Homo sapiens: one gene and its partners. The protein of the gene in region 1 purifies or fractionates together with the protein of each later gene. This does not show direct contact. Each region holds a gene or a part of one and is shown in the gene's direction. Other genes may lie near its edges.

Region 1 (3,651 bases):
TTCAGGTGATCCGCCCGCCTCGGCCTCCCCAAGTGCTGGGATTACAGGCATGAGCCCCTGTGCCCGGCCTCGTTTACAAATATTTCTGAGCATCCGTGAGGTGCCAGGTACTTCAGATTCCTTGGTGAACAGGAAGGACATGGTCTACCCCTTATGCAGTTCAGTCTGATGGCGGAGGCATGCAAAAGTGAACACAGCATTGTATTATGCATTATATGTAAGCTCTGGCCGGGCGCAGTGGCTCACACCTGTAATCCCAGCACTTTGGGAGGCCGAGGTTGGAGAATTGCTTGACACCAGGAGTTCGAGACCAGCCTGGCCAACATGGTGAAACCCCATCTCTACTAAGAAAACAAAAATTACCTGGGCGTGGTGGTGCATGCCTGTAATCCCAGCTACTCGGGAGGCTGAGCCCAGGAGTTAAGAGGTTGCAGTGAGCTATGACCACACCACTGCTCTCCAGCCTGGGCAACAGAGCAAGACTCTCTCAAAAAATAATCATAACAAAAGTAATAAATAAGCTCTGAACTGGGAGAAATGCCTTGAAGGAGAAGAATCAGACGAATGTTGAGTGTCTAGTGATCTTCAAACCCAGACCGGGAGCGTGGGTGGGACAGTGGTGTAGACCGGGAGCGTGGGTGGGACAGTGTCTGGTGTAGACCGGGAGCGTGGGTGGGACACGGTGTCTGGTGTAGACCGGGAGCGTGGGTGGGACACGGTGTCTGGTGTAGACGGGGAGCGTGGGTGGGACGGTGTCTGGTGTAGACCGGGAGCGTGGGTGGGACACGGTGTCTGGTGTAGACGGGGAGCGTGGGTGGGACGGTGTCTGGTGTAGACCGGCAGCGTGGGTGGGACACGGTGTCTGGTGTAGACCGGGAGCGTGGGTGGGACGGTGTCTGGTGTAGACCGGGAGCGTGGGTGGGACACGGTGTCTGGTGTAGACGGGGAGCGTGGGTGGGACGGTGTCTGGTGTAGACCGGCAGCGTGGGTGGGACACGGTGTCTGGTGTAGACGGGGAGCGTGGGTGGGACGGTGTCTGGTGTAGACCGGGAGCGTGGGTGGGACACGGTGTCTGGTGTAGACCGGGAGCGTGGGTGGGACGGTGTCTGGTGTAGACCGGGAGCGTGGGTGGGACACATTGTCTGGTGTAGACCGGGAGCGTGGGTGGGACGGTGTCTGGTGTAGACCGGGAGCGTGGGTGGGACACGGTGTCTGGTGTAGACGGTAAGCGTGGGTGGGACACGGTGTCTGGTGTAGACCGGGAGCGTGGGTGGGACGGTGTCTGGTGTAGACCGGGAGCGTGGGTGGGACACGGTGTCTGGTGTAGACCGGGAGCGTGGGTGGGACACGGTGTCTGGTGTAGACCGGGAGCGTGGGTGGGACGGTGTCTGGTGTAGACCGGGAGCGTGGGTGGGACACGGTGTCTGGTGTAGACGGGGAGCGTGGGTGGGACGGTGTCTGGTGTAGACCGGCAGCGTGGGTGGGACACGGTGTCTGGTGTAGACCGGGAGCGTGGGTGGGACGGTGTCTGGTGTAGACCGGCAGCGTGGGTGGGACACGGTGTCTGGTGTAGACGGGGAGCGTGGGTGGGACGGTGTCTGGTGTAGACCGGCAGCGTGGGTGGGACACGGTGTCTGGTGTAGACGGGGAGCGTGGGTGGGACGGTGTCTGGTGTAGACCGGGAGCGTGGGTGGGACACGGTGTCTGGTGTAGACCGGGAGCGTGGGTGGGACGGTGTCTGGTGTAGACCGGGAGCGTGGGTGGGACACATTGTCTGGTGTAGACCGGGAGCGTGGGTGGGACGGTGTCTGGTGTAGACCGGGAGCATGGGTGGGACACGGTGTCTGGTGTAGACGGTAAGCGTGGGTGGGACACGGTGTCTGGTGTAGACCGGGAGCGTGGGTGGGACGGTGTCTGGTGTAGACCGGGAGCGTGGGTGGGACACGGTGTCTGGTGTAGACCGGGAGCGTGGGTGGGACGGTGTCTGGTGTAGACCGGGAGCGTGGGTGGGACACGGTGTCTGGTGTAGACCGGGAGCGTGGGTGGGACGGTGTCTGGTGTATACCGGGAGCGTGGGTGGGACACGGTGTCTGGTGTAGACGGGGAGCGTGGGTGGGACACGGTGTCTGGTGTAGACGGGGAGCGTGGGTGGGACGGTGTCTGGTGTAGACGGGGAGCGTGGGTGGGACACGGTGTCTGGTGTAGACCGGGAGCGTGGGTGGGACACGGTGTCTGGTGTAGAATGGAATGGGAGTGTGTGTTTGTGACATGGTGTCTCACGTAGAAGGAACAGCAAGGTCTTGACATTGGAATTGGCTGGGCTGTTAGAGGAAGCGGGAGCTGGTTTTCTCCTGGGGTAACTGCTCCAAATGGTGTTTTCAGATGCCCCCTGTGGCTCCCAGTAACCTCACGTGGGGAATGGTGGTCAGGGAGGAGCCGGGCGCAGACATCCCAGTGAGGGGCAGAGCCAATGGCCTGGCCATGGTGCCCGGGGATTGGGTCAGAGGAGGTGGTGGAAGGTGAGAGAGAGGAAGCGAAAACCACGTCCCCATCCCCAGAATTCTTGGCCTGAGCCCTGGAAAGCTGAGCTGTTGCCTAAGACAAGGCACGCTGGGATGAAGCAGCCCCATGGGCTGGGCGCGGTGGCTCACGCCTGTAATCCCAGCACTTTTGGAGGTTGAGGCGGGTGGATAACTTGAGGCCAGGAGTTCAAGACCAGCCTGGCAACATGGTGAAACCCCGTCTCTACTAAAAATACAAAAATTAGCCTGGCGTGGTGGCACACGCCTGTAATCCTAGCTACTTGGGAGGCTGAGGCAGGAGAATTGCTTGAACCTGGGAGGAGGGGGTTGCAGTGAGCGGAGATCACACCACTGCACTCCAGCCTGGGTGACAGAGCCAGACTCCATCTCAAAAATAAAAATAAAAAACTGAAACAGCTGTATGATGGGTGTGTGGAGTGTGTGGAGTCCCAGACACCCGAGAGATGTGCCTGTGGGGGCTCTGCGCGGCAGGCAGAGGTGACAGGCCGCGGCCTGGTCTCTGTCCCGCCCCCAGGGCCTAGATCTAGGGTCCCTGGCTGCCCTCTGCTGGTACTCCCGGCCCCTTTCCCTCACCCAGGCCAAGACTAAGGGGCTGCAGAGCGGGGTGGACATTGGCGTCAAGTACTCGGAGAAGCAGGAGCGGAATTTCGACGATGCCACCATGAAGGCTGGCCAGTGCGTCATCGGGCTGCAGGTGGGCGACAGCTCCCCCAGCCCCAGGGACCACGGCATTGGGGGACCACGGTGTTGGGGGACAGCAGCATTGGGGGACAGCGGCATGGAGCCCTGTGGTCCCTCAATTTCAGGGAGGGACCGGAAGCTTGTTGGGTGCAGTCTGACCTCTCCCACGAACCTCCCTGCAGATGGGCACCAACAAATGCGCCAGCCAGTCGGGCATGACTGCCTACGGCACGAGAAGGCATCTCTATGACCCCAAGAACCATATCCTGCCCCCCATGGACCACTCGACCATCAGCCTCCAGATGGGCACGAACAAGTGTGCCAGCCAGGTGGGGCTCGCCCGGGTGCCCCCGACTCCTCTCCCTGCCCCTCTACACCCTGTGGTCTCGGCCCCTCCCTGGGGCCACCTCCAGCTTCTCTCCCCACT
Region 2 (3,651 bases), on another chromosome or scaffold:
ACAGTGGTAGGAGGGGAAGCCAGAGCCGTGGGAGGGGCTAGCTATGGACTGCATGCCTCTCCCTACGACTGAATTGAGCATCCTGTGAAAGGTTTGCAGTGGGGGAGGGACACAGACTGATTTGTGCTTTGGGAAGGACACTCTGGCTGTGTGTGTATAGAAGCAATGAAGGGGAAGGGGGTGCAGGGTGAGGAGTCAGAGACTAGGCGGAGGCTGCTGAGGTGACTGCTGTTGGGATGGGAAGAGCAGCTCAGATGCCTTTCTTTTCTTTTCTTTTTTTTTTGGGAGTCTCACCCTGTCCCCCAGGCTGGAGTGCAGTGGCATGATCTCGGCTCACTGCAACCTCCGCCTCCCGGGTTCAAGTGATTCTCCTGCCTCAGCCTCCTGAGTAGCTGGGACTACAGGCGCGTGCCACCACGCCCGGCTAATTTTTTGTATTTTTAGTAGAGATGGGGTTTCACCGTGTTAGCCAGGATGGTCTCGATCTCCTGACCTTGTGATCCGCCCGCCTCGGTCTCCCAAAGTGCTGGGATTACAGGCGTGAGCCACTGCACCCTGCTAGATGCTGTATTTTCTTATGGGGAGGGTCTGTTAGCAGGGGCCATCCTGACACTGCCTTGTGGCCAGGAAGGAGACAAACGAAGGCTGGCGTTTCTTTTTCTTTCTGCGTCTGCCTTACGTTGTGATCTTTGTTTAAAACTTATTCAGAATGGAAATGCTAAATTCCAGAGTAACAAAGAGTTTGTTGAACTCGTTAGAGTTACACATGATAGGATTTAACATTGTATTGAGATGTGTCAATAACATTCATTTACTTAGAAACGTCACATCTTCTGGATTTCCAGAGGAGTTTTATTCTTGATAAGTTTGCTTTCTTGATGAGGGAAAGTTTAATCCAGCTGCAGTTTTTCTTTAAAAAAAAAATCATCTATCTTAAGAAATATAACATTTAAAGGTTAGATGTATTTAAAAATGATAAAAGGAATACTTTGGTACAGTTTCTTTGGTTTCTGAGTTGATTAGGGACTCAGAAGCCTTTGCATTATTTAGTGGTATATCCTTGCCAATATTTAAAGAGCTGTTAGTGAGCACCCCAGGCCCTGCTCTCTGGAAGCTTTCCTAAAGCTTGCCCTGAAATAGCGAGGATGAACGTCTTGTTTGCTAAAGCCAAATGGTTGGCTAATAAGACTCAGCATAGCTGTCTTTATAAAATAATAAGAGGTTTGATGTTAAGAAGTGGAAGATAATTGATTTTTTTAAAAAGCTGAAACATAAACTTCCTTATGCTAATGTTACAACTGGAAAATCTAAAAAGAAAAATCCAACTGTAACATTGCCTACGTGAAAGACATGGTAGAAGTCCTTACGTACCGATCACCTTTAAACAAATTGCTTGGCAGTACATTTTTGAAATTAAGACCACTCCAGCTCACATAACTGGCAATGATTATTGCTGACTTAAAATTATAGAGCCTACAGTTGCCTTCTTAGCATTTTTAGTAGTGAGAGAATTGAATAGTGCTTAGTCAGAGTGCTTTCTGGGTGGGAGTTGTATAGTAATAAAGATACATTTTCATGTATTTTCTAGACATTACAAGAAGCGGTGCCAAGGCCGCATGCGGAAGCACGTGGGGGACCTGTGCCTGCAGGCAGGGATGCTGCAGGACTCCCTGGTGCATTACCACATGTCGGTGGAGCTGCTGCGTTCTGTGAATGACTTTCTGTGGCTTGGAGGTAAGATGAGCTGATGAAGATGATCTGATATGTAATTGTTTCAACTGTTAATTAAAATGAGAGGCTGGGTGCGGTGGCTCACGCCTGTAATCCCAGCACTTTGGGAGGCTACGGCAGGCCAAATATGAGGTCAAGAGATTGAGACCATCCTGGCCAACATGGTGAAACCACGTCTCTACTAAAAATACAAAAATTAGCTGGGCGTGGTGGCACGCGCCTATAGTCCCAGCTACTCGGGAGGCGGAGGCAGCAGAATTTCTTGAACCAGGAGGCAGAAGTTGCAGTGAGCAGAGGTTGCACAACTGCACTCCAGCCTGGCAACAGAGCGAGACTCCATCTCAAAAAAAAATAAAATAAAATAAAAAAAGAAATGAGAGGAAACGGCAGAAGAAATTCCCCAAAAAGAAGGGATGAGGGAGGAAAAGCAGCCAGCCTGTGCTGGTTGCCACGAGCAGTGGCCTGGGATGCTTCCCTGCTGTATCTGCTGCCCTCCTCCCACCCTGCCATGCGTCCTCTGAAGGAGGCCCTGCCCACACTTTCCCTTTTCCTCTGTTCTTAGTATACCTTGCCCTCTGCTTTGGATGCCGTTCCCCATGATCTTCACCTCTTAGACTCCTCCCTCAAAACCTCCTCCATGTGTCACATGATGAATGGATAAACGAAATGTGGTATGGGCATACAGCGGAATATTATTCAGCCATGAAAAGGAGTGAAATTGTGATACCACTGCAGCACGGATGAACCTTGACAACTTTGTGCTAAGTGAGAGAAGGCAGGCATGAAAAAGGCCGCAGATTGTATGATTCTATATATATGAAGTGGCTAGAATAGGCAAATCTATAGAAGCAGAAAGTAGACAACTGGTTCTAGGGGCTGGGAGGAGGGGGAATGGGAAGTGACAGTTAACGGGCATAAGGTTTCTTTCTGGGGTGATGAAAATGTTCCAGAGTCAGTTAGTGGTGATGGTTGCACAGTTGTGAATATACTAAAAACTGCTGACTTGCACACTTTAAGTGGGTGAATTATATGGTATGTGAACTCTATGTCAATCTTAAAAATTAAAAGAAAGGGAAGAAGAAATCCTACTTCAAAGCACAGCCATCTCTGATCCCCCGCAGCAGTCGGCAGAGCGGGTGCCCTGCCTGAGATGTTGCTGACACTTCGTGGTGGAATCGGATGTCTGTGTGTGGTCTTCCCTTTGGGGACTGCGCCTCCTGGAGGTGGTCCTGGGAGGATGGACTGGCTGAGTCCATTGTGTGGGTAAGGACTAAAACAGGGTTCTTTCGTTGAGGTTGACAGTTTAGCAAGGACACCTGTCAGCCACTTATGATAATACAAGTCGGAATGAAGTAATGAGGTGAGTTCTGTAACAGAAGTTTAACGAGGTGCCGTAGAACATATTAAATATAACAAATTCTTTCGTTCTTGGGGACGGAGTCTCGCTCTGTTGCCCAGGCTGGAGTGCAGTGGCATGATCTTGGCTCACTGCAATCTCCGCCTCCTGGGTTCAAGCGATTCTCCTGCCTCAGCCTTCCGAGTAGCTGGGACTTACAGGCATGCACTACCACACCCGGCTAAATTTTCTATTTTTAGTAGAGACGGGGTTTTGCGATGTTGGCCGAGCTGCTCTTGAACTCGACCTCAGCTGATATGCCTGCCTTGGCCTCCCAGAGTGCTGGGATTACAGGCATAAGCCACTGTGCCCAGCCAAATATAAGAAATACTTCAAACGGCCAGGCATGGTGGCTCATGCCTGTAATCCCAACACTTCTACAAAAAATAAAAAATAAAAAAATCTTACTTCACCTCACTTCTACAAAACAAAATTAAAAAACATTAACTGGGTGGAGACCAGCCTGAGCAACATAGGGAGACCTCACTTCTACCAAAATAAAATAAAATAAAATAAAATAAAAA
Region 3 (3,651 bases), on another chromosome or scaffold:
CCTTCTAGAATTCCAATTAAATGTATGTTAGACCCTGCTCTATCTTTCATATCTCTATACTCTCTTCTGTGTTTTTCATCCTTTTGTCTATTTTTCCATGCTTTATTCTGAATAGTTCCTTCTAATCTACCTTCCAATTAACTAATTTTCTCTTTAGCTATATCTAATTTGCTGTAATTAATTACAGTTGCCATTTTTATCCTAAAATTTCTATTTCATATTTTTGTATCTGCCATGGTACTTCTTATGGCTTTTAATTCCCTGCTAACTATTTAAAGTTCTTATTTTATCCTGTGAATATGATATTCCTAGTTATTTTATTTTTAATTTTTATTATTTGTTAATCTTATGTTTTATTTACACTTCTTTTCTGTGACATGAGCACACACAGATTCATGTGTATACATATATGGCTCTGATACCTCTCCTTTCCTGTCCTCATTCAAACCACTGATCACAGAGAGAGGACTATTTTTTTTTATTTTTAATTTTTCTATTTCAATAGGTTTTTGGGGGAACAGGTGGTGTTTGGTTACATGAATAAGTTCTTTAGTGGTGATTTTGGTGCACCCATCACCCAAACAGTGTACATTGTACCCAATGTGTAATCTTTTAACCCTTGCCACACCCCACCCTTTCCCCGCAGTCCGCAAAGTCCCATGTATCATTCTTATGCCTTTGCTTCCTCATAGCTTAGCTCCCACATATGAGTGAGAACATACAATGTTTGGTTTTCCATTCCTGAGTTATTTAATTAAAATAATAGTATCCAATTCCATCCAGGTTGCTGTGAATGCCATTATTTTGTTCCTTTTTATGGTTGAGTAGTATTCCATGGTGTGTTTGTGTGTGTATAACATTTTTCTTTATCCACTCATTGATTGATGGGCATTTGGGCTGGTTCCATATTTTTGCAATTGCAAATTGTGCTGTTATAAACATGTGTGTGCAAGTATCTTTTTTGTATAATGACTTCTTTTCCTCTGGGTAGATACCTAGTAGTGGGATTGCTGGATCAAATGGTAGATCTACTTTTAGTTCTATAAGGAATCTCCACACTGTTTTCCATAGTGGTTGTATGAGTTTACATTCCCACCAATGGTGTAAAAGTGTTCCCTTTTCACCACATCCACACCAACATCTATTATTGTTTGATTTTTTATTATGACCATTCTTGCAGGAGTGAGGTGGTATCACATTGTGGTTTTGATTTGCATTTCCCTGATAATTAGGGATGTTGAGCATTTTTCCATATGCTTGTTGGTATTTGTTTTTTTTTTTTTTTTTTCATTATTATACTTTAAGTTTTAGGGTACATGTGCACAATGTGCAGGTTAGTTACATATGTATACATGTGCCATGCTGGTGTGCTGCACCCATTAACCCGTCATTTAGCATTAGGTATATCTCCTAATGCTATCCCTCCCCAATTCCCCCCACCCCGCTTGTTGGTATTTGTATATCTTCATTTGAGAATTCTCTGTTCATGTCCTTAGCCCACTTTTTGATGAGATTTTTTTTTTCTTGCTGATTCGTTTGAGTTCTTTGTAGATTCTGGATATTAGTTGGATGTATAGATTGTGAAGATTTTCTCCCATTCTGTGGGTTGTCTGTTAACTCTGCTAATTATTTCTTTTGCTTTGCAGAAGCTTTTTAGTTTAATTAAGTCCCATCTATTTATCTTTGTTTTTGTTGCATTTGCTTTTGGGTTCTTGGTCATGAAGTCTTTGCCTAAGCCAATGTGTAGGAGGGTTTTTCCAATATTATCTTCTAGAATCTTTATGGTTTCAGGTCTTAGATTTAAGTATTTGATCGATTTTGAGTTGAATTTTGTATAAGGGGAGAGAGAAGGATTCAGTTTCATTCTTCTACATGCAACTTGCCAATTATCCTAGGACCATTTGTTGAATAGGGTGTCCTTTCCCCATTTTATGTTTTTGTTTGGTTTGTCAAAGATCAGTTGGCTGTAAGTGTTTGGCTTTATTTCTGGGTTATCTATTCTGTTCCATTTGTCTACGTGACTATTTTTATACCAGTACCATGTTGTTTTGGTGACTATGGCCTTACAGTATAGTTTGAAGTCTGATAATGTAATGCCTCCAGATTTGTTCTTTTTACTTAGTCTTGCTTTGGCTATGTGAGCTCTTTTTTGGTGCCATATGAATTTTAGGATTGTTTTTTCTAGTTCTGTGAAGAATGATGGTGGTATTTTGATGGGAATTGCATTGAATTTGTAGATTGTTTTTGGGAGTATGGTCATTTTCACAATATTGATTCTACCCATTCATGAGCATGGGATGTGTTTCCATTTGTTTGTGTCATCTATGATTTTCTTTCAGCAATGTTTTGTAGTTTTCCTTGTAGAGTTCCTAGTTATTTTAAAGTCTGTGTTCGGTCTTTCAGCATTTAAAGTTTGTAGGTTTATTACTATTTCTCTTCTTTCTGTTGGTCATAACTCTTAGTGTTTTGTTTCCTTGTGTGCCTGGTTACATATGTGCTGGTCATTGTATTTGAAAATTATGTGTGAAATAATTTGAGGTTTTGGATTATGTATATTCCTCCAGAAAGAATTTCATTTGCTTCTGTGCATTTCTTAGGAACATTACAAGTCCTTCTTCTCAGTTAATTTTCGTAGTATCTTTATCAGATAGGTGCTATTACAACCACTCACTTAGCAGATGAAAATCATGAGGCTCTGAGAGTCTAAGTCATCTACTTAGAATTGGACAATGGTGAAGCCAGGATTCAAACCCACATCAATAAGAATCCAGCGCTCTTAACAAGGGGCCAGTACACTTTTTTAAAAAATAAAAGGCTAGATAGTAAATATTTTAGACTTTGTGGACTGCACAGCCTCTGTTGCAACTACTCAACCCTGCCTTTGTAGCATGAATGCAGTCATAAACTATACATAAATGAATGAGCCTGGATTCGTTCCAAGGAAACTTTATAAAAACAGGTGGCAGGCTGGATTTGGCCCATGAGAAGTGTAGTTTACACAAAAGTTGAGCAAACCAATTTTTTTCTGATTGTTTTTCCTCTTCTCAGTGTAAGAAGAAGCTTGGGAAGCTGCCACCTCAGTATGCCCTGGAGCTCCTGACGGTCTATGCTTGGGAGCGAGGGAGCATGAAAACACATTTCAACACAGCCCAGGGATTTCGGACGGTCTTGGAATTAGTCATAAACTACCAGCAACTCTGCATCTACTGGACAAAGTATTATGACTTTAAAAACCCCATTATTGAAAAGTACCTGAGAAGGCAGCTCACGAAACCCAGGTATGCTATCCCCACATGGCTTAGCTCCCCTATGTAAATGAACACCTGGATACAGGTACAGTGCCTTGGAAATGGAGGAGGTGGGAGGGCTCCCCACTTAGTGAGAATCTCCTGTTGCCCATCATTGTACTGGGCATTTTACTACTGCCATCTGTTTTAAACACCTACCTCCAACCCTGTGAGGCAGGCACTATGCCAATTATTTTACAGGTGAGTAAACTGAGGTTCTGAGAGGTAAGGAGCTTGTCCAACCCTTAACAGAAAATGAGTAAAATAGCTGCAGTTTGAACTGAAATAAGAACAGCAGCAACAACAATGATAGTAATTGCTCCCAGGTATTGAAAGCTTGTTGTAAGACTAACACATGCTAATA

Evidence for each region.
Region 2: the proteins of CNN2 (region 1) and TRAPPC9 purify together in Homo sapiens (affinity purification with mass spectrometry, with the first as the bait; one large-scale study listed by BioGRID). This does not show direct contact.
Region 3: the proteins of CNN2 (region 1) and OAS1 purify together in Homo sapiens (co-immunoprecipitation; one large-scale study listed by IntAct). This does not show direct contact.

The regions. Positions count from the first base shown.
Region 1 is NC_000019.10:1,033,010-1,036,660, forward strand, and holds part of CNN2 (calponin-2), read left to right. Parts: intron 1-3,057; coding exon of another isoform or gene 3,058-3,120; coding exon 3,121-3,237; intron 3,238-3,406; coding exon 3,407-3,553; intron 3,554-3,651. UniProt on the Homo sapiens protein: Thin filament-associated protein that is implicated in the regulation and modulation of smooth muscle contraction. It is capable of binding to actin, calmodulin and tropomyosin. The interaction of calponin with actin inhibits the actomyosin Mg-ATPase activity.
Region 2 is NC_000008.11:140,437,135-140,440,785, reverse strand, and holds part of TRAPPC9 (trafficking protein particle complex subunit 9), read left to right. Parts: intron 1-1,588; coding exon 1,589-1,734; intron 1,735-3,651. UniProt on the Homo sapiens protein: Functions as an activator of NF-kappa-B through increased phosphorylation of the IKK complex. May function in neuronal cells differentiation. May play a role in vesicular transport from endoplasmic reticulum to Golgi.
Region 3 is NC_000012.12:112,913,461-112,917,111, forward strand, and holds part of OAS1 (2'-5'-oligoadenylate synthase 1), read left to right. Parts: intron 1-3,048; coding exon 3,049-3,278; intron 3,279-3,651.